Linked DNA regions of Homo sapiens: region 2 is linked to region 1. Evidence: fine-mapped expression QTL. A gene starts in region 1. The other region holds a variant in brackets. All regions are shown on one strand. Distances are from middle to middle.

What was found.
Region 2: its variant is fine-mapped to the expression of PCDHGC3 in blood mononuclear cells (TOPMed, PIP 0.93).

What each region holds. Positions count from the first base shown.
Region 1 is chr5:141,470,288-141,482,418 of GRCh38, forward strand. PCDHGC3 (protocadherin gamma subfamily C, 3) reads left to right here and starts at 5,679. Exons shown (of 4, transcript NM_002588.4): 1 at 5,679-8,259. The coding sequence starts at 5,830. All of the region lies in intron 1 of PCDHGA1 (protocadherin gamma subfamily A, 1), which reads left to right. The region is part of intron 1 of PCDHGA2 (protocadherin gamma subfamily A, 2); the gene reads left to right. All of the region lies in intron 1 of PCDHGA3 (protocadherin gamma subfamily A, 3), which reads left to right. It also overlaps PCDHGB1, PCDHGA4, PCDHGB2, PCDHGA5, PCDHGB3 and PCDHGA6, and 12 more genes. RefSeq lists enhancers at 5,419-5,528, 5,986-6,529.
Region 2 is chr5:141,510,112-141,519,924 of GRCh38, forward strand. It overlaps PCDHGA1 (protocadherin gamma subfamily A, 1), which reads left to right. Exons shown (of 4, transcript NM_018912.3): 4 at 836-2,864. The coding sequence ends at 1,062. It overlaps PCDHGA2 (protocadherin gamma subfamily A, 2), which reads left to right. Exons shown (of 4, transcript NM_018915.4): 4 at 836-2,864. The coding sequence ends at 1,062. It overlaps PCDHGA3 (protocadherin gamma subfamily A, 3), which reads left to right. Exons shown (of 4, transcript NM_018916.4): 4 at 836-2,864. The coding sequence ends at 1,062. PCDHGB1 (protocadherin gamma subfamily B, 1) reads left to right here. Exons shown (of 4, transcript NM_018922.3): 4 at 836-2,864. The coding sequence ends at 1,062. It also overlaps PCDHGA4, PCDHGB2, PCDHGA5, PCDHGB3, PCDHGA6 and PCDHGA7, and 15 more genes. RefSeq lists enhancers at 3,423-4,048, 3,594-3,713, 4,049-4,674, 4,454-4,703, 4,675-5,300 and 4 more. The variant G/C (reference allele first, on the strand shown) is at 5,393.

The DNA of each region.
Region 1 (12,131 bases):
AACTGTTTTTATTCCATTTTTCCTCAAATGATCCCATAATTTGACCTTAGGAAGCTGTTCAAATAGACACATTAGGTTGAATGGAAAGACTACTCGATGATATTTAGGATTTTAAGAGGATTTTATGTATTTTTTCCTTGTGTGCAATAATTTAATAGCATCTTGAATAGGATTTTCTGATATTACTAACCCTCTGGGAATAATATTAGGTAATTAGACAGTTAGCTAATATTAAAATATGTATCAGGTAATATTTATTGAGAGTTTCCTCTGTGCCAAGCAGGATCAACTTCATAGGCAGGCGACCTGTGCGGGGACACAGGGCTTCATGCTTAGATAGGCCCCCTTGCTTTGAAGGCCCCTACCCTTTGGTTAGGGCTCTGCTGTTACCATCTTGAAATTCTTAATAATTTTTATTTTATTTTTTTGAGTCAGGGTCTTGCTCTGTCGCCCTGGCTGGAGTGCAGTGGACTCACTACAGTCTTGAATTCCTGGGCTCAAGCAATCCTCCCACTTCAGCCTTCTGAGTAGTTAGGACGACAAACACACGCCACCATGCTCAGATAAGTTTTTTGTTTGTTTGTTTTTTTGTTTTTGTTTTTGTTTTTTGTAGAGATGGGACTGTCCCTATGTTGCTCAGGCTGGTCTCAAATTCCTGGCCTCAAGTGATCCTCCCACCTCAGCCTCCCAAAGTGCTGGGACTACAGGCATGAGCCACTGTGCCTGGTCAATCATTTTTATTAACAAGCCCAAGCCCTCTTTTTTTTTTTTTTTTTTTTGAGACAGGGTCTCCCTCTGTTGTCCAGGCTAGAGTGCAGTGGTGCGATCTTACCTTCACTGCAACCTCTGCCTCCTGGGTTCAAGTGATTCTCCTGGCTCAGCCTCCCTAGTAGCTGGAATTACAGGCACCCACCCCCATGCCTGGCAATTTTTTTGTATTTTTAGTAGAGATGGGGTTTCACCATGTTGGCAAGGCTGGTCTCAAACTCCTGACCTCAAGTGATCCACCCAACTCGGCCTCCCAAAGTGCTGGGATTACAGGTATGATCCACTGCGCCCGGCCTCCAAGCCCCCTATTTTTATTTTGCACTGACCCTACAAGTTACGTAGCTAGGCTTAGTTATGTTTTTAGCAAGGAAAGTGTATAATCTCATGTACCTTTTGAAAGATTACTCAGGTCTCTGCATGTGAAATGGAATTTAGGGAATGCAAGAGAGGGAGTAAAAATAACAGCGAGGAAGCTATGATAGCATTTAAGGTTGCTTTGACTCAGGGGTAGCAGTAGATAGGGTAAGTAATTGATAGTTTCAAAATATATTTTGGGAGTAGTAAGCATTGGTATGGATTAGTAATATACTGGATGTGGGGATGCAGAAAAAAATATTAAAAATTACTTCTGAAATTCTGGCTGGAATAGAAGTGCCACTTACCAGGTAAGGAAGGTTGGAGACATAACATATTTGAGGGTGTGGTCAAAAGATGAGTTTGACATTATGCTATGTCATATAAAAGACATATAAAAGACTACCTATTTTATAATTCCTTTTTAATAAAATATTCAGAAAAAGCAAAACTGTGGTTGCCTGAGGCTGAAGCTAGGAAGATTGACTACAGACAAGCATGAGGGAAATTTTGGGGGTGATGAGAGTTTTCTAAAACTGGATTGTGGGGTTGGTTGCATTACTGTATAAATTTATTAAAAATCCCTGCATCGTATAGGGGCACTATATTGTATGTAGAAAGCTGTGAAAAGATTTTAAAAATGATTGACATGTCTGTGGTTATATCAATGAGTACTATTATTATTCCCATTTTATACATAAAGAAAATAAAAGAGAAGTTAAAAATAAAAGTTTCATGGTTACATAGCTACTAGGTGTAATATCCAGTATTGGAATTTGAATCTTTTTGACACTAAGACCTTACTCTCGATCATATAATACATTCACTTTCTATTTTAAAGTTATATTATAGCCGGGCACAGTGGCTCACACCTGTAATCCCAGCACTTTGGGAAGCCGAGGCAGGCAGATCACGAGGTTGGGAGATCGAGACCATCCTGGCTAACACGGTGAAACCCCGTCTCCACTAAAAATAGAAAAAATTAGCCAGGCGTGGTGGCACGCACCTGTATCCCAGCTACTAGGGAGGCTGAGGCAGGAGAATCGCTTGAACCCAGAAGGCAGAGCTTGCAGTGAGACGAGATCGTGCCACTGCACTCCAGCCTGGGTGACAGAGTGAGACACCATCTCAAGAAAAAAAAAATTATATTATAAATGCTGCATCTCATTGGTCAGAAGCTCTCTTGAAATTATAAAACAAAGAAGAAAAAAGATAAAGACTGGGAAATTGTGTTGAATCAGTATATAAATCCTGTATACTGGTCCTTCCATTTCCCCTAGAAATAAGTGATACAGGCCAGGCGCTGTGGCTCACACCTGTAATCCCAGCACTTTGGGAGGCGGAGGCTGGCAGATCACCTGAGGTTGGGAGTTCAAGATCAGCCTGACCAACATGGAGAAACCCCCGTCTCTACTAAAAATAGAAAATTAGCTGGGCATGGTGGCACATGCCTGTATTCCCAGCTACTCGGGAGGCTGAGGCAGGAGAATTGCTTGAACCCAAGAGGAGGAGGTTGTGGTGAGCCAAGATTATGCCATTGCACTCCAGCCTGGGGAACAAGAGTGAAACTCAAAAAAAAAAAAAAAAAGAAAGAAAAAGAAAAAGAAAGAAGGAAGGAAGGAAGGAAAGAAAGAAAGAAGTGATACAACAAGTTACAGCATCTTTGTTTATTATCCACTGTGAGTTGTATTACCACACTTTACTTGGCTCTTTGGCAAACTATATTATCTCTTCAGATCACTAGGGCTAGGAAGGCCCACTGGTAACTTGAAGGAGTAAATGTATCTTCTAAAAAATGCTTACTTCCAGGGAGATTGGATCCACACAAGTGAATACATATATAGTCCTTAGTGTATGCTATGATTATTTTACTATGTCAGTAGCATAAAGATTGCTATATTAATAAGCATTAAGTGCCTGCTGTGCTAGACAGTGAGGATGCAAGTGGCCACCAAAATAGCATGGTCCCTGCCCTCCTGGAGCTTCTTTTTTTCTTCTTCAGTGGGGGAAGCAGATACTTTGCTTATGCAAAAATAATTATAAAATTTAAAGTTGTGCCAAGTTCAATGGAAAAAATATAAGGTGTTCTGAGAGAGCATAACAAAGGATCCTGGTTTTAACTGGGGCCTAATGGAAGACCTCTATTAGGAAATAACATTTAAACTAAGACCAGACAGACCTGTAGAAATTAGCAAAGCAAAGGGAGGGAGGAAAAAGCAGCTTTCCTGGCAAAGGAACAATTTGTGTGAAGGCCCTGAGACAGGGAAGGGCTGGGGTTCTGACCACCCTCCAAGTGGTGCAATGGAATATAGTGAGAGAGGGAGAAGACATGAGAACTTGGATACTATGCAAAGGATTTGGTATTTTAATTCAAGAGCAGTATGATGCTACTGAGGAGCAGCTGGACAATTGTGTGATCCAATTAAAATTTTAGGAAGATGAACCTCGCTATTGTGGAGAATGCATACACAAGGGTTCTGTTGGTTCATGAAGAGGTCTTAAGAAAACTATGAGCTGGGTGCAGTAGCTCAGGCCTGTAGTCCCATCTACTTAGAAGTCTGAGGCGGGAGGATCCCTTGAGCCCAAGGAGCTGGAAGTTACAGTGAGCTATGATTATTCCACTGTACTCCAGCCTGGATGACAGAGCGAGATCCTGCCTCAGAAACAAAAACCAAAAAACAAACAACAACAAAAACAACAACAACGAAAATCTCAGAAAACTACAGGCCTTATTATCAAGAAAATGACAGGCCTTATTATTGAGAAAACTACTTACATTTTTAAAAGCTGATTTTCAAAAACCAGATTGTGAATTAAGTGATGCTGAATAGGGGAAAAAAAGACTGATAAACCAGTGTATCTCTGAATAACCCACTAGATCAGTGCTTGTCAAACTTTAATGTGTTTTCAAATCACCCTGATGTTTTGTTAAAATGTAAGTCATGTCTCAGTAGGTCTAGAGGAGGGCATTTCTGCATTTCTAACAAGCTCCCCGGTGATGCCTAGACCATTGGTCCTCACACTTTGAGTAGCAAGTGATTGGGCTATACTCTTTATTCTAAATTCTAAATGTATTCTATCTTCTAATGCCTATCAGCCCTCTTGCTGGTCTGGCTAATTATCAAACTTGAGCATTTAAAACTGGGGGTTTTCAGAGATTAATTGAAGTGTTAAAGACATGGAAATATAGGTCACATATGGCTTTTCATCTCTTCCGGAAATATCCTATATATCCTTACTTCTTTTCTACCTACCTAACCTATGTGCCTACCCCTTCACTTATGTTCAAGGTTCTATTATACTTCAAAAGGACTCTATGCAATCAAAGTGATGTCCAAGACAAATATACAGAAATAGTATGAGGCTCTAACACTTTACATCTAATGGAGTGGTTTGCATCATTAATTGAGGCTTACTCTGTGCCAGGCACTTTACCTGCCTTCTTCATTTAATAGGATAGGAGCAGGAACTCTTAGAGGTTCATTTCTTGTTCAAGGATATACATCTCATCTCTGGCTTATATCACAGTGGACTCTTTTATTCACTATCCTAATCATTATAATTTTGTTTGGTGACAACAATTCTAAATGCAGAAAAGTTAAGGCTCTTTATTCTGTGACTAAAGGCTTTGTATTTTCTAAAGATTTGTGGAGCTTTGCTGCCATTATTTCAATAATTTTATAAAGATCCTAGGTGGTAAATAGGCCTGGCTTTTTTTCTTTTTGAAATCTTCTCCGTCTTCTTCTTCATTAGCAGTGCAACTTCTTGTGGCATATGGTACCCAAGATCTTGGGAAAAGGATTGATCAAGTAAAGGGAAACGATAGAGAGAGTGTGCTCTACAACTGAGATCATGCTCCTTGTGAAAGACAGGGTAGGGAAATTTCTTATTGCTCCCTGGTTCTTAAGAAATGAGAGCTAACAATGACATCCAGTTTTAAAAGAAATAAAATCTGAATTGTACTTTTAAATTTTATAAGCCAGAGTTAAACCAATAGATTGTAACTCCTGCTAATTTGATAGTAGCTCCAGATAATGAGGAAGTGACAGGGAATGCTAATTTCATTTGGTAAGAGATAAAACTGAAATTATTAATGTCTCCACGGAAATGCTAAATGCCTCCTTACAAGTAGGGTCCGGCTAATTGTCTGTCTTCCAACAAGCCAGATTTGTTGGTGTTTTTCCAGACAATGTTGTGTAGTTTTCGGTTTGGTTCGATCCCCTTTCTTGTGATCAAAGAAAGTGATTCAAATGTTTAATGAGTCTTGATTTGGATTGGAGACTTGCAGAACGGCTAGCCTCACAGCCCCAAGGCTGGCTTTCCCTAAGGTAGGTTTCCTATGCACCGATACTGGCAAGGCGCTTTGGCTGGAAACTCTGGAAGGAAGCCAAAGGAAAGTGAAGTTCCTGGCGCTAGCGCGTGTCCTGCTCAGAGAGCCCGGCGCTAGCTCATTCTTCGTGCAGTTATTGGCTGGGACTCTGTGTGCCGCTGTCGGCCAATGAAGACGCTGGAGATCGGGCCCCTGCCCGTCCCCTTTCTGCGCCCCGGGATGAGGCAGAGACTGAACAGCCGGCGAGCAAATCAACGGCATCCAGAAAGCCATGTCGGACTCGGCGCCCAGCGCCCAAGCGCTAACCCGCTGAAAGTTTCTCAGCGAAATCTCAGGGACGATCTGGACCCCGCTGAGAGGAACTGCTTTTGAGTGAGATGGTCCCAGAGGCCTGGAGGAGCGGACTGGTAAGCACCGGGAGGGTAGTGGGAGTTTTGCTTCTGCTTGGTGCCTTGAACAAGGCTTCCACGGTCATTCACTATGAGATCCCGGAGGAAAGAGAGAAGGGTTTCGCTGTGGGCAACGTGGTCGCGAACCTTGGTTTGGATCTCGGTAGCCTCTCAGCCCGCAGGTTCCGGGTGGTGTCTGGAGCTAGCCGAAGATTCTTTGAGGTGAACCGGGAGACCGGAGAGATGTTTGTGAACGACCGTCTGGATCGAGAGGAGCTGTGTGGGACACTGCCCTCTTGCACTGTAACTCTGGAGTTGGTAGTGGAGAACCCGCTGGAGCTGTTCAGCGTGGAAGTGGTGATCCAGGACATCAACGACAACAATCCTGCTTTCCCTACCCAGGAAATGAAATTGGAGATTAGCGAGGCCGTGGCTCCGGGGACGCGCTTTCCGCTCGAGAGCGCGCACGATCCCGATGTGGGAAGCAACTCTTTACAAACCTATGAGCTGAGCCGAAATGAATACTTTGCGCTTCGCGTGCAGACGCGGGAGGACAGCACCAAGTACGCGGAGCTGGTGTTGGAGCGCGCCCTGGACCGAGAACGGGAGCCTAGTCTCCAGTTAGTGCTGACGGCGTTGGACGGAGGGACCCCAGCTCTCTCCGCCAGCCTGCCTATTCACATCAAGGTGCTGGACGCGAATGACAATGCGCCTGTCTTCAACCAGTCCTTGTACCGGGCGCGCGTCCTGGAGGATGCACCCTCCGGCACGCGCGTGGTACAAGTCCTTGCAACGGATCTGGATGAAGGCCCCAACGGTGAAATTATTTACTCCTTCGGCAGCCACAACCGCGCCGGCGTGCGGCAACTATTCGCCTTAGACCTTGTAACCGGGATGCTGACAATCAAGGGTCGGCTGGACTTCGAGGACACCAAACTCCATGAGATTTACATCCAGGCCAAAGACAAGGGCGCCAATCCCGAAGGAGCACATTGCAAAGTGTTGGTGGAGGTTGTGGATGTGAATGACAACGCCCCGGAGATCACAGTCACCTCCGTGTACAGCCCAGTACCCGAGGATGCCCCTCTGGGGACTGTCATCGCTTTGCTCAGTGTGACTGACCTGGATGCTGGCGAGAACGGGCTGGTGACCTGCGAAGTTCCACCGGGTCTCCCTTTCAGCCTTACTTCTTCCCTCAAGAATTACTTCACTTTGAAAACCAGTGCAGACCTGGATCGGGAGACTGTGCCAGAATACAACCTCAGCATCACCGCCCGAGACGCCGGAACCCCTTCCCTCTCAGCCCTTACAATAGTGCGTGTTCAAGTGTCCGACATCAATGACAACCCTCCACAATCTTCTCAATCTTCCTACGACGTTTACATTGAAGAAAACAACCTCCCCGGGGCTCCAATACTAAACCTAAGTGTCTGGGACCCCGACGCCCCGCAGAATGCTCGGCTTTCTTTCTTTCTCTTGGAGCAAGGAGCTGAAACCGGGCTAGTGGGTCGCTATTTCACAATAAATCGTGACAATGGCATAGTGTCATCCTTAGTGCCCCTAGACTATGAGGATCGGCGGGAATTTGAATTAACAGCTCATATCAGCGATGGGGGCACCCCGGTCCTAGCCACCAACATCAGCGTGAACATATTTGTCACTGATCGCAATGACAATGCCCCCCAGGTCCTATATCCTCGGCCAGGTGGGAGCTCGGTGGAGATGCTGCCTCGAGGTACCTCAGCTGGCCACCTAGTGTCACGGGTGGTAGGCTGGGACGCGGATGCAGGGCACAATGCCTGGCTCTCCTACAGTCTCTTGGGATCCCCTAACCAGAGCCTTTTTGCCATAGGGCTGCACACTGGTCAAATCAGTACTGCCCGTCCAGTCCAAGACACAGATTCACCCAGGCAGACTCTCACGGTCTTGATCAAAGACAATGGGGAGCCTTCGCTCTCCACCACTGCTACCCTCACTGTGTCAGTAACCGAGGACTCTCCTGAAGCCCGAGCCGAGTTCCCCTCTGGCTCTGCCCCCCGGGAGCAGAAAAAAAATCTCACCTTTTATCTACTTCTTTCTCTAATCCTGGTTTCTGTGGGGTTTGTGGTCACAGTGTTCGGAGTAATCATATTCAAAGTTTACAAGTGGAAGCAGTCTAGAGACCTATACCGAGCCCCGGTGAGCTCACTGTACCGAACACCAGGGCCCTCCTTGCACGCGGACGCCGTGCGGGGAGGCCTGATGTCGCCGCACCTTTACCATCAGGTGTATCTCACCACGGACTCCCGCCGCAGCGACCCGCTGCTGAAGAAACCTGGTGCAGCCAGTCCACTGGCCAGCCGCCAGAACACGCTGCGGAGCTGTGATCCGGTGTTCTATAGGCAGGTGTTGGGTGCAGAGAGCGCCCCTCCCGGACAGGTAAGGTTTAGCAAGTCATGCTTGACCCTGTTAGTGCTTTTTTATTCCTACATCATATTGAGGAAGGAATGGAGCTGTTTTTTTAGTGATGAAGATGTTTTCCTGGTGATGCATTCACACTTTCAACTGGCCCTTCCTAGATCAAAGTTAGTGCCTTTGTGAGATGGTGGCCTGCCAGAGTGTGGTTTGTGGTCCCATTTCAGGGGGAAGATACTTGACTCATCTGTGGACCTAATTCACATCCTCAGCACTCTTTTGCTATCACAACTAACCAATCTTGCTAAGGGATGGTTAAGCTAAAACACAAGATCTCAGCGATCAGAGTTTAGCTTGGTATCATTTACATTAGGAATAAGCTGCTGGATACCTCTAACCAGTGGCAGCTTCTAGGAATACAAAAACTACCTCATTCCTCCACCTTTCAAGTGATTGTGACATTTGTATTAAAACTAATAGCTTTTTGATAATTTTCCTTTGTTTATACAGATCGTGTACCTCATTCTCAGATAATTTTTTATGAATGAAATGAAATTCCAGGCATCCTTTAAATTTTATTTCAAGCATTCTACTGGAAATGATGTGCACCCTGCTTACAAAATATTTTTACCTTATAACAGTAATGCATGTTTGCTAGAAAATTCAGAAAATACAGAAAAGTATTTAAAAAATTAAAACTATAATCTCCAAACCCAAAGATAACCATTTTTAATTATAAAAGTAATAATTTATTTCAAAAATAAATCTAGGCAACCCAAGAAAACATAAAGTAGCCAGACTCAGTGGTGTGCACCTGTAGTTCTTGCTGCTCAGTGCCTGAGGTGGGAGGATTGCTTGAGCCCAGGAGTTCTGGGCTGTGGTGCACTATGCTGATCAATTGATCAATCCACTGTCTGCACTAAGTTCAGCATGAATACAGTGACCTCTTGGGAGGGCAGGACCATCAGGTTGCCTAAAGAGGGGTGAACTGGCCCAGGTTGGAAGTGGAGAAGGTCAAAACTGCTGTGCTATCCAGTAGTGGGATGACATCTGTGAATAGCCACTGCACTCCAGCCTAGGCAATATAGGGAAACCATGTCTCTTTAACAATAACAACAACAACAACAACAATCCCAGAAACTACAAAAGGAGAGTCTTTTTGGTGCCTCCAGTGTTAGTCCCTGTCCTTCCAGCCTTATTTTTCTTAAGTATATGCACAATGTGAAAGGTAGATAAATTCATATCCTTAGACAGGTAAAGCATTCATTAATTCAGGGTGGTATGCAAGGATACTATCCAAGGCATGGTATCCATGCAAGGTGACTGCAAGGCCTTTGCCCTGGAGAGAACCCTATACATACTCTCAACTGTAGGAGAAACACTGTTATTTTGTTACTCAGTGCATCATTGCTATCAACTCTTGGATTTGGCAGTTAGTCAAATGAGGTTCTACCATTTACCAACTAGGAGTCTGTGGCCAAGTTACTCAATCTCCTTTCTAAGCCTCTTCCTCATATGCAAAAAGGGAATAATAAGTGTTTTATAAGATTCATGCATGATATAATGTATGCAAAGTGTTTAGCATGGTGCCTGGCATATCATAACTGTTAAACAATTATTAGCCAGCTCCTAGCATTTTGGGAGGCTGAGGCAGGCGGATTGCTTGAGGCCAGCAGTTCAAGACCAGCCTGAGCGACATAGTGAGATCCTGTCTCTACAAAAAAAAAAAAAAATGTGTTTTCATTAGCTGGGTGTGTTGGCATGCACCTGTGGTACCAGCTACTTGGGAGGCTGAAGTGGGAGAATTGCTTGAGCCTGGGAGGTTGAAGCTACAGTCAGCTGTGATTGCACCACTACACTTCAACCATGGCAATAGAGTGAGACCCTGTCTCAAAAAAAAAAATTATCAGCTATTACTATAATTATTTTTATTAGTTCCTCACTCACCTAAAATCTCAAACACACCTTAGAAATACACATATGAGAACAACCAAAAATGACAAAGTAGAAGCACATATGAAAAGGCTAAGAAAGCATGAAAGCCAGCAAGAAATAACTGCCGCTCTTCTGGTCAGCCTGGAAAGCAACTGGCATTTTCCCTAGAACAATGTTTTCAAACTTGGTTGCACATTAAAATCACCTAGAGACCTTTTAAAAATTCTGAAACCCAGGCCACACCCCGACAAATGAAAGCACAGTCTCTGGGGGTGGGACATAGGCATCATTTTTTGAAGGTCCCCACTTGATCCTAATGTGCAGACAAATTTGAAAACCACAGCTTTGGGAGGCTGAGGTGGGTGGATCATAAGATCAGGAGTTTGAGACCAGCCTGGCCAATATGGTGAAACCCCGTCTCTACTAAAAATGCAAACATTAGCTGGGCATGGTGGCGCATACCTGTAGTCCCAGCTACTCTAGAGGCTGAGGCGGAAGCATCAGTGAGGGAGAATCAGTGAACCCAGGATGTGGAAGTTTCAGTGAGCCCAGATCACACCACTGCACTCCAGCCTGGGCGACAGAGCGAGACTCCACCTCAAAAACAAAAAGAAAGAAAGAAAAAAGAAAAGCAGTACTCTGGAACCTACCAATCCATCATTTAGCATATTTGTGAAGTAAAGTGTTATTCTGGTATTTGCAGAACCAGAATCCAGCTTTATTGGGCCAGGCCCAATTTTTTTAAAAAACATGGTAAGGTCTCCCAGCCTTAAAGTATTACATAGCATAGCTCTAAAAGATCACTGTAGGAAGACATAAAATGGTATTTCAGTCATCTAAGGGAAAAACCTTCCTAAAGCACTAGCCCCTGGACAACTATTATTTAAACATCTACAGCTGTTCAATAGATATTGGGTTCTTTTTGGAGGGATGTGACAAAATTCTTGTATAATTAGATTGTGATGATGATTGTATCAGTTTAGTACATGTAAATACACTGAAAACCATTGGATTATACACTTTAAATATGTGATTTGCATGGTATGTGAATTATGTCTCAGTAAAAATCTAGAGATGGGGCTGGGCTCAGTGGCTCACGCCTGTAATCCCAGTACTTAGGGAGGCTGAGGCCAGCGGATCACCTGAGGCCAGGAGTTCAAGACCGGCCTGGCCAACATGGTGAAACTTCATCTCTACTAATAATACAAAAATCAGGCCGGGCCTGGTGGCTCACGCCTGTAATCCCAGCACTTTGGGAGGCGGAGGCGGGCGGATCACGAGGTCAGGAGTCCAAGACCAGCCTGGCCAACATGGTGAAACCCCGTCTCTACTAAAAATACAAAAATTCACCAGGCGTGGTGGCTGAGGCAGGAGAATCGCTTGATGGTGGAGGTTGCAGTGAGCCGAGATCGCGCCACTGCACTCCAGCCTGGGTGAAAGAGCGAAACTCCATCTCAAAAAAAAAAAAAAAAAAAAAATCAGCCAGATGTGGTGGCAGGTGCCTGTAGTCACAGCTACTTGGGAGGTTGAAGCAGGAGAATCGCTTTATCTCAGGAAGCAGAGGTTGCAGTGAGCCAAGATCATGCTGTTGCATTCCAGCCTGGGCAACAAGAACAAAACTCACTCCATCTCAAAAAAAAAAAAAAAATATCTAGAGATGGGAGAATCATATGGCTGGCATAAAAAGGTCAAGTCAAAGATATGTAAGATTAAGGCTTTACGATGCTCCAGTTCTAGTAAAACAGACCAGGTACTTGTTTTGGTGTGAAATTGCCAATATAAGTATAGTACTGTACATATTAGTTGTTTAGCTTAGGTAAGTCTTTTAATCTCTTTAAACTCCAGTTTCCTCATCTATAAAATAAAGAGAATATCTACTTTGCAAACTTGTTGTGAGAGTGAAAAGTAATGCATATAAAGTCCCTGTATGGAGCAAGTACTCAATAACTATTTGTTGAACT
Region 2 (9,813 bases), 39 kb after region 1:
TGAAATACAAAAATTAGCTGGGCTAGTGGTGTGCACCTGTAATCTCAGCTACTCAGGAGGTTGAGGCAGGAGAATCACTTGAGCCCAGGAGGCAGAGGTTGCAGTGAGCCGGGATCGCGCCACTGCACTCCAGGCTGGGCGACAGAGCAGGACTCCATCTTAAAAAAAAAAAAAAAAAAATGCTGTTTTGAAATGGAGGCTTGGAAGAGCACTCTTCACCCCCACCCCACACACTTACTAACGGAACTACCGAATCTCTACTCGTGCCAGGCCTTGCTTGGCAAAGGCTAGGGGCATGTAAAGCCATGGTTTCATGGCTGCTGCCCTCCAGGAGCCCATGGTCTAGTGTGGGAGTCAGAGGCTCCCTTGAGAAAGCCAGGGCAAGGAACTGAGAGCCCGTGTCACAGCCCTGAGAGAAATACCAGCGAATGTGTTTTGAGCACTTACATCTACCAGGCACTATTTTACGTACCTGACATACATTTTCTTATTTAGCATTCACTAAAACCAGAAGAGGTGGTTACCATTATCATCCCCATTTTGCAGATGAGAAAACTGAAGTGGCATAAGGAGGTTAGGTAGACTTGCCCAGGATCACAGTGAGTAAGGAAAGGAGCTAGGAATCAAACCTAGACTTTCTCACTCCAGAGCCTCTTAACCTCTACCCTCAACTCTTGTGAAGAGAGACTACCTTGGTGACCCCTATATTCCCAGTGCTCAGCGTGGTCAAGGCCCAGGGTGCTGTATAGGCATTCATTAACTGCTGGGGATATAAGACAGTGACTGTTGAGGACCCTAAGTTTAGCTCCCACCTGATCTTCCTCTGTCTCTGCAGAAGCTGCTGATGGGAGCTCCACCCTGGGAGGGGGTGCCGGCACCATGGGATTGAGCGCCCGCTACGGACCCCAGTTCACCCTGCAGCACGTGCCCGACTACCGCCAGAATGTCTACATCCCAGGCAGCAATGCCACACTGACCAACGCAGCTGGCAAGCGGGATGGCAAGGCCCCAGCAGGTGGCAATGGCAACAAGAAGAAGTCGGGCAAGAAGGAGAAGAAGTAACATGGAGGCCAGGCCAAGAGCCACAGGGCGGCCTCTCCCCAACCAGCCCAGCTTCTCCTTACCTGCACCCAGGCCTCAGAGTTTCAGGGCTAACCCCCAGAATACTGGTAGGGGCCAAGGCCATGCTCCCCTTGGGAAACAGAAACAAGTGCCCAGTCAGCACCTACCCCTTCCCCCCCAGGGGGTTGAATATGCAAAAGCAGTTCCGCTGGGAACCCCCATCCAATCAACTGCTGTACCCATGGGGGTAGTGGGGTTACTGTAGACACCAAGAACCATTTGCCACACCCCGTTTAGTTACAGCTGAACTCCTCCATCTTCCAAATCAATCAGGCCCATCCATCCCATGCCTCCCTCCTCCCCACCCCACTCCAACAGTTCCTCTTTCCCGAGTAAGGTGGTTGGGGTGTTGAAGTACCAAGTAACCTACAAGCCTCCTAGTTCTGAAAAGTTGGAAGGGCATCATGACCTCTTGGCCTCTCCTTTGATTCTCAATCTTCCCCCAAAGCATGGTTTGGTGCCAGCCCCTTCACCTCCTTCCAGAGCCCAAGATCAATGCTCAAGTTTTGGAGGACATGATCACCATCCCCATGGTACTGATGCTTGCTGGATTTAGGGAGGGCATTTTGCTACCAAGCCTCTTCCCAACGCCCTGGGGACCAGTCTTCTGTTTTGTTTTTCATTGTTTGACGTTTCCACTGCATGCCTTGACTTCCCCCACCTCCTCCTCAAACAAGAGACTCCACTGCATGTTCCAAGACAGTATGGGGTGGTAAGATAAGGAAGGGAAGTGTGTGGATGTGGATGGTGGGGGCATGGACAAAGCTTGACACATCAAGTTATCAAGGCCTTGGAGGAGGCTCTGTATGTCCTCAGGGGACTGACAACATCCTCCAGATTCCAGCCATAAACCAATAACTAGGCTGGACCCTTCCCACTACATAATAGGGCTCAGCCCAGGCAGCCAGCTTTGGGCTGAGCTAACAGGACCAATGGATTAAACTGGCATTTCAGTCCAAGGAAGCTCGAAGCAGGTTTAGGACCAGGTCCCCTTGAGAGGTCAGAGGGGCCTCTGTGGGTGCTGGGTACTCCAGAGGTGCCACTGGTGGAAGGGTCAGCGGAGCCCCAGCAGGAAGGGTGGGCCAGCCAGGCCATTCTTAGTCCCTGGGTTGGGGAGGCAGGGAGCTAGGGCAGGGACCAAATGAACAGAAAGTCTCAGCCCAGGATGGGGCTTCTTCAACAGGGCCCCTGCCCTCCTGAAGCCTCAGTCCTTCACCTTGCCAGGTGCCGTTTCTCTTCCGTGAAGGCCACTGCCCAGGTCCCCAGTGCGCCCCCTAGTGGCCATAGCCTGGTTAAAGTTCCCCAGTGCCTCCTTGTGCATAGACCTTCTTCTCCCACCCCCTTCTGCCCCTGGGTCCCCGGCCATCCAGCGGGGCTGCCAGAGAACCCCAGACCTGCCCTTACAGTAGTGTAGCGCCCCCTCCCTCTTTCGGCTGGTGTAGAATAGCCAGTAGTGTAGTGCGGTGTGCTTTTACGTGATGGCGGGTGGGCAGCGGGCGGCGGGCTCCGCGCAGCCGTCTGTCCTTGATCTGCCCGCGGCGGCCCGTGTTGTGTTTTGTGCTGTGTCCACGCGCTAAGGCGACCCCCTCCCCCGTACTGACTTCTCCTATAAGCGCTTCTCTTCGCATAGTCACGTAGCTCCCACCCCACCCTCTTCCTGTGTCTCACGCAAGTTTTATACTCTAATATTTATATGGCTTTTTTTCTTCGACAAAAAAATAATAAAACGTTTCTTCTGAAAAGCTGAACGTTTCTGTATAAGCGATGGAAGCTCCTGGCATGTGTGCATGAAGTGATGAGCTGAGGTGGGTGCTGGAAGAAGGGCGGAATCGGGAGGCCACTTTGTGTCATTGCGCGTCTAGATGTTTCCGAATTGCGTGTGTGTGTGTGACTGTGCAATATGGTTGTGTATGCTTGCAATGCCGTTGTGCCTATGAGACAGTGTGCGATTGTGTGCCTATGGATCTGTGTACCGTGTGCCATTGTGTGATCGGTCCGCTGTGGGGGTGGGGATCTGAGTGCGGCGTGTCAGTGTGCAGTGGAGTGTGCAGTCTAAGCTTGCGGCTGTCTCCAGGCAGAAGAGGAGACCCCGGCGCGGGCGGGGGCGGGTTGGCGCCGGGCAAACGCCTTGGGTAGAGGGGAGAGGACGTTTCGTTAGTTCCCGCCCCTTCCTGACTAAAATTGCCTACCCGAAGCGCCCCGGAGGGCTTCACGGGAGGAGGGTAGACTCTCCTTTGCCCCCGCACCCCCACCCCCGCTGCCTAGGGGTTTTGGGAAAGCCGCGGGAGTGGGAGGGAATGCGGGAGGTGATTCTTCCAAAGCCAAGTCTGCAGCTCGAGCCTCAGTTTCCCCATCTGGAATTCGCCTTCCCGCTGACATCTCCGTAGCGAAGCCTAAGAAATTGGAGGGCTCATCCTCTTCTTGCGGGGGTCAAGGGGACTGAAAGGACGTGCAGGAAATGAGATCCATCGCAGACTCAGCTCCCCTCCCTCCTTCCTGTCGGTGCTTTTCCACTCACTCGCCTGCTCTCCCATCTCCCCGCCCCCTCCGCCTGCCTCCTCGAAGCACTGTGGGATTCCGAGGTTGCTGCAGCCAGAGAAGCTGCAGAAAAACACGGAGCTGGGGGTGAAGGGGGACTTAAAAGGGGAACTACCCGGAAGGACCCAAGAACACAAAGACAGAGCCACTGCGGTTATCTGGCTGGTCAGCAAGGGTATGCGGCTTCCTCCGCGCTGCGGAGGCTCCCAGAGCCAGGTCACCCATTCTGCCAGCTCAAGTCTGTTGTCATGGGAACCAAACCTTCCAACTTAAGAATCTGGGGGCGACTTTCTAGCGTGGGAGGAAGGGTGGTGTGCACGGTTGCTGAGATGGAAGCAGGGTTTTGTTACTCAGAGCCAGGCTGCGGAGGGGCGGGGTGCCGGGCGCCTGGGTTCTATTCCAGGCACAGCAGCAGACTGGCAGAGCGCGTGAGCAGCTGTGGTTTGTCCCCTAATTGGTATGTGTGCCTATAAAGCTCTGAACCAGAAAGGCGTGGCCTCCGGGGGGACGGGAGGGAGGCGGCAGGCAACCCATCCCCACACCTCAGGCCATACTGAGGAGGCAGCTGCCCAGGCTCCAGGGCTATTTAAAAGGCTTTTATTTCCAGTTCCAGAGCCCGCCCGAATGGGTTTGTGGTCCTCTCCAGGCCTCTCCCTGTCTATCCTGGGCCTGCTCATTGCTGGTCTGGCTTTTTTGTGCAGGTCATAACGTGCTCAGACAAGTATGGCTCCAAGTGGCAAGTCATCTGGAGCATGACCTCAGGCTCCCAACCTCTGCTGGGCAGGCTCAGGTTTCCACCCCAGGGTAAACCCCTCTACTCTGGAATGTGGTCTGTGGCCACCAACAGAGCAGAGGGGATGAGAAAATGGGAGCCAGATGCTTCCCTCAGCAAGAGACACAGGTACTGCCAGGAAACCTTGCGTGACATCTGGGAACATGAAAGGTTCCAAGTGAGTTCCAAAAAAGGGCTCCAAACCAAGTAGCAGCAATGTGGAAGAGTCAGGGAGCTGAACCAGGCGCCCACTCCTTTACTGTGGCCAAACGGCCCTGAGGTGAGCTCTGGTGGGGCAGCAGCCACCATGTATTAATCATCTCTAGCCCTGTGCCCAAGTAAAGTGTCTGGCACCTTTAGCTTTTTCACAGTGATTTGTCAGGTCAACCAGGGATTTGAGGCAGGAAAGACTAGAGGAGCCTGGACTAGAGTGAAAAGAAAACAGCTCAGAAATTCACACAGGAAGCTGTAAGGCAGTACTGTTTCAATGCTTTATTAACAGTTGGAAACAAAACCAACAAACTGGAGGTGATGACATCCCAGAAGCCTATGAGGCAAGGGAAATAGGTTTGCATTTTGTCCCTCACACCTCTCTCTCTCTCTCTTTTTTTTTATTAAATGCATCTTAGCAAAAGTAGATTAAAAAAGAAAGGGTCAAAGCCCCAGATGTCAGCGAGCAGGGAGGAGGTGACCCAGGGGAGCAACAGACGCCCTGCATCAGAGTCCTCCCAGGAATAGTCCAAAGGAGCTGCTCTTGCCCCTTTATACACAAGCGCCAGCAACCAAAACCCTCCCTCCTGGCAATAAGGCCTCACTATAGTTGCCCTCATGCTTCCTAAGCTCTCTCTTGCTCTAATAACTCTAATTCTGGGCCAAGCCCAAGAGTGCCATTCTTTCTTCCTAGCTGGGGATGGAAAGCTGAGAGGGGCACAAGGAGGGCAAAAGTATCACCCTAAGCCA[G/C]AGAATTGCAGCTTCCTGTGGTTGGGGCCACCAAACAGTTCAGTGTGCCCACCCACTTCTCTTTTAGAAGAGAGCTGGGGTACAGTGTATGAAGGCACTCCTGGTGCCCAGTTCCCCAGAATGTCCAGTTAGCATCTGCACATTTGGCTTGATACATTTATACATTTATAAAAAACTCTGTGGTCTTAGAGTTCCTGCTACTCTTAGGCCTGGCCCAGCTCAACCAGAGAAGGGGTTCCTCCTGTGTCGGATTCCCTGGGAGAGAGGATCTGCCTTGGACTCAAGGGTCCAGAAGGTCCAGGGGCACATTCAGGATTGGGCCTGTGAGAAGAAATCCCAGAACTCTGTAACCTGCCACCAAAGCTTCTTACATTATGGAGGGGAAAGGGGGAAGGAACAGTTTTCTTTAAAAAAATTTTTTTTTTCATACAAAAATAGATCCATTTGCAAAACAATTTCTCAGCCAGGAGGCTCCACCTCCCATTTCCTTGTAGACAGAGGGTGAGGTGTTGGGATGGTCACAGTACAACCCATAGTCCAGATGAGATGCACCAAAGCTCAGGGAAGGCATGAGGAGGGAAGGTGGCTCAGTAGCCTGGGGTTGGTGCAGAGCGTCCAGAGAGGCAAGGGCATAAAGCGTGGCAGAAGCTGGGGGCAGGTCCCACACTGTCGCTATGCCCTGCCTGCCTGCCCACAGGCTCTGGCCTGGGCCACAGCACAGCAGGGAAACTGGTCCAGATCCTTTGCTTTGGAGGCCTTTCCCAGGAAGGTGGGGTAAAGGTGGGATTTGCTCCCTGCTTCCTTAGGAGCAGCTCCCAGTGCCACACCACTAATAATAAATAACCACAGCCAGGAGAGGGAAGAGCAGAGACAACAGCAATGAAAGGAGGGATCTAGCCCAAAGGTTTACAAGCCCCATGCTATTCTCAGGGCCAGAGAAACCACAAAAGAAAAGCACAAATCCAGCAAGACTGACCTAGGGGGGAAAGCCCATTAGAAAGTCAGGGCTGAGAAAAAGCAGGCTGGGCCTTGTCTGAGATGAGGCCCTCTGAGTAACAGAGAGGAGACAGGGTTAAGGCAGCAAACATGGACCCTGCTTTGGTAATACAACAGCCAGGGCTGGCTAAGTCGGGCTCAGGCCTCCCCTGCACTGCCCTTTCCTTCTGGCCTCCAGGCAGCTGAAGCTGTATGTGATGTTGAGAGAGCAGCAGGCCAGAGAGAAAGACAGGGTCAGGGTGGTGGGAGTGGCCACCCCAGAGGAATATCCCCTTGAGCCTTTAGGCACATGCTGCAGGGCAGGACAGTCTGCGGCTCCGCTGAGGAGCTGCCGCGGTCACAGGACCCACATTAGCTTGCACGGCCAACCAACTCCTTGGCTTCCTCAAGGATTGTGGGGAATGTCTCACTGTTCTTGGACACCTTGGCAGGAACAGCAGCCATGGCATCATCCTTGGTCAGCTCCGAAGCTAGCAGAGATGTGACTGCACACCCGGCCTTCCTGTTGGCTGCAAGAGAAGACGAGAGATTCTGTCTATGGAAGGCCTCATTTCTAATTTCTTTCAAACTCTACAGCAGATAATCAGCGTAAGCCATGCAGACATGACTACCTTGGCCACTTCACAGAGGCCCTTACTTTGAAGAAAGGGGCAGAGATCCAGCATGTGGAATATATTGTTGGGTGGCAAAGAATGTAAGAGAGTGTGGTGCAACAGGAAAGCAAGCCTTGCCCCCTTGCTTCCCTGTGTGAAAACAGCACAAAAGTTTGAACACAGACAGACAGAACTGGGCTGAAGTGTTAGCTATGTGACTTAAGGAGAGATGAAGTATTCAAAGTCTATTTTCTCGTAATAGGGATGTTGGAATTAAATAGACTAAAGTTTAGTACATAGTATTATTTTTGTTTTCTTGACAGGTCCCAGGAAACTCCTAGGCCAAAACACTTCTCAGTCAGCCCTGGGAGGGTTGTCCCTAGCAGAAGGCAACCTTCCGTAAGTGGCTGGAGAGACTCCCGCAAAGAGGAACAGCAGCCACGCACTGACACCGCACTCCCACGTGTTCCTCCAACAACAGATGCCCACATGCCTTAGCTCTTTCCCACCCCTTCAAAGGTAGCAGCCGTAATACAAATGCCAAGGGCCCTACAAGGTGTGTAGAGTATGTGGGGGTGGCATGGCGGGGGGGAGGTAGTAATAAAAACTATGCCAGGGAAGCAGAACTGGGATAAAGATGGACAGGAGAGGACCCCTACCAAGAAATCTCAGCCCAGGTGGCTAAGAGATGGTCAAGTTCCGGCTGTCATACCAGATTAGAAAAGAAGAACCAAATCAATCCACGAGTTTCTGTTCTAACTGCTGGGTTTCATCCCCAAGACTCTCATATTCATTTATGGTATCTAGGCTTATGGCCCCAGTATCTGCAGCAGGAAGGCCACTCCTTGAGACCATGCCCATCTCATGATGTTTCCTCCTCCCATGCCCCAGAACAGCACAGAGCAACTGTGTATACACAAACAGCTGTCTGGGACGAAAGAAGCCTGACACGAAAGGCCATATGTTATGGGTCAGCTTCTGCGAAATGTCCAGCACAGGCAAACCCAGAGATAGAAAATAGACTGGTGGTTGCCAGAGGCAAGGGGAGGGGAGAATCAGTAGTGACTGCTAATGGGGATTATGAAGTTTTTCTTCTGGGGATGATGAAACGTCCTGGAATTAGATAGTAATGGTTATACAATCTTGTGGATATTCTAAAACCCCTGAATTATACATTTTTAAAAGGTGAATTTTAGGTATGTAAATGATAGCTCAATTGGAAAAAAAAAAAAAAAAAAAAGACTTCCTGGAGATCTGGGAAAGCTGGAGTGGAGAAAGCAGTACCGGAATGTTTTAGAAGCAGGACCAGATGAAAGAGCCGAGCACTCCTAAATAAAGACCAAGACTGGGGCAGCTGCATGACTGGAATGAAGCGCCTTTTTGGACCAGCAAAAAGCTTTAGGTAGGCAGAAGCCAAACAGGATCAGATAGCCCGTCTTTTTTTTTTTTTTTTTGATGGAATCTCAGTCGCCCAGGCTGGAGTGCAGCAGCGCAATCACAGCTCACCGTAGCCTCAACCTCCCAGGCTCAAGTGATCCACCCACCTCAGCCTCCCTAGTAGCTGGGACTATAAGCATGTGCCACCATATCTGGCTATTTTTGTATTTTTTTGCAGAGATGGGGTCTCTCCATGTTGTCTAGGCTGGTCTTGAACTCCTGGGCTCAAGCAATCCTCCCACCTTGGAACCTAAAGTTCTGGGATTACAAGCATGAGTCACCACAGCCTGCCAAAGCCCAAGTCTTAACCAGGTCTTCTCTCCCTGCAGAGCCATGACCCAGAGCTACTGTTTTCATCCCAGGAGAGGCTGCCCATAGATCAAGCAGGGAACACGCAGCATGCACACAGGTTACCAATTTAAAGGTCTCCTCCTCCTCCTCTACTTCCCAGGGGCACAAGAGGTTGTCTACCAAGAGGAGAAAGAATAGTGAAGACCCTGACTGACAGCCACAGGACTTATCTAGTTACAGATCATAGGTATGTGCCCGAGACTGTGGGATTTTCACAAAACCATTTATTGGATTATGAACATAAACTAATGCCCCGTGACTGAGACAAGTGAGGAAAAGGAGCCTACGTGAGTGTGACTATGATGGTCTACATGTGTGCATTTCTCATACTGTCCTTACCACCAAAATCTTCCTCAGGCCTCCTACATTTCCACTCTCTTCTGAAGTACTCCCTCTCTAGACCCCATTTCTCATATCCAGAAGGGTAGTAGTTTCCTATCATTTTATTATTTCTTTGAATTCAGTCTCCAACAGTTGAGAAGACACTGCGACTCTGTGCATGTGTGTGTGTGTGTGTAACTCTAGTGGTATATATATGTTGAAATAACATCTGACTCCAGACCTTGGGAAAAGAACACTGGGCCACTTGTCCTGGGCAACACAGGAGAAGGCAGAGGTCCCATGTGGTAGGTCTTTAGCTGCTGCTTTCTGTGGTTTCTTCCTCCAAAATAAGAAGATACCAGTTGTACCTAACCAAGTGGTGTTTCTAGACTTTTCTGGACTCAAGAAGCTTCTGATGTATTACAAACTTCATAAGAACCAGGAGCAGAGAGTAGGTAGGGAGAAGATCAAAATTTCCCTTTTAAGCCTTGAAAGCCTATACACCAGGGAGGGTGTGATTTGGCCTAAGGTCAGGGGATGAGAAAGCTCTTGTTGGAACAGGTCTCCCAGCTTTCCACTCACTCACCATTATGCTCAGCAGGTTGAACAGTCAAGAAAAACTGACCTCCCCATGCTTCCCCCAACTTACTCACTTGTTATTAGACTATTGAAAAGTAGCCATAGAACCAGATAAATATTTTGACTACAAGAGAACAGTCCCAC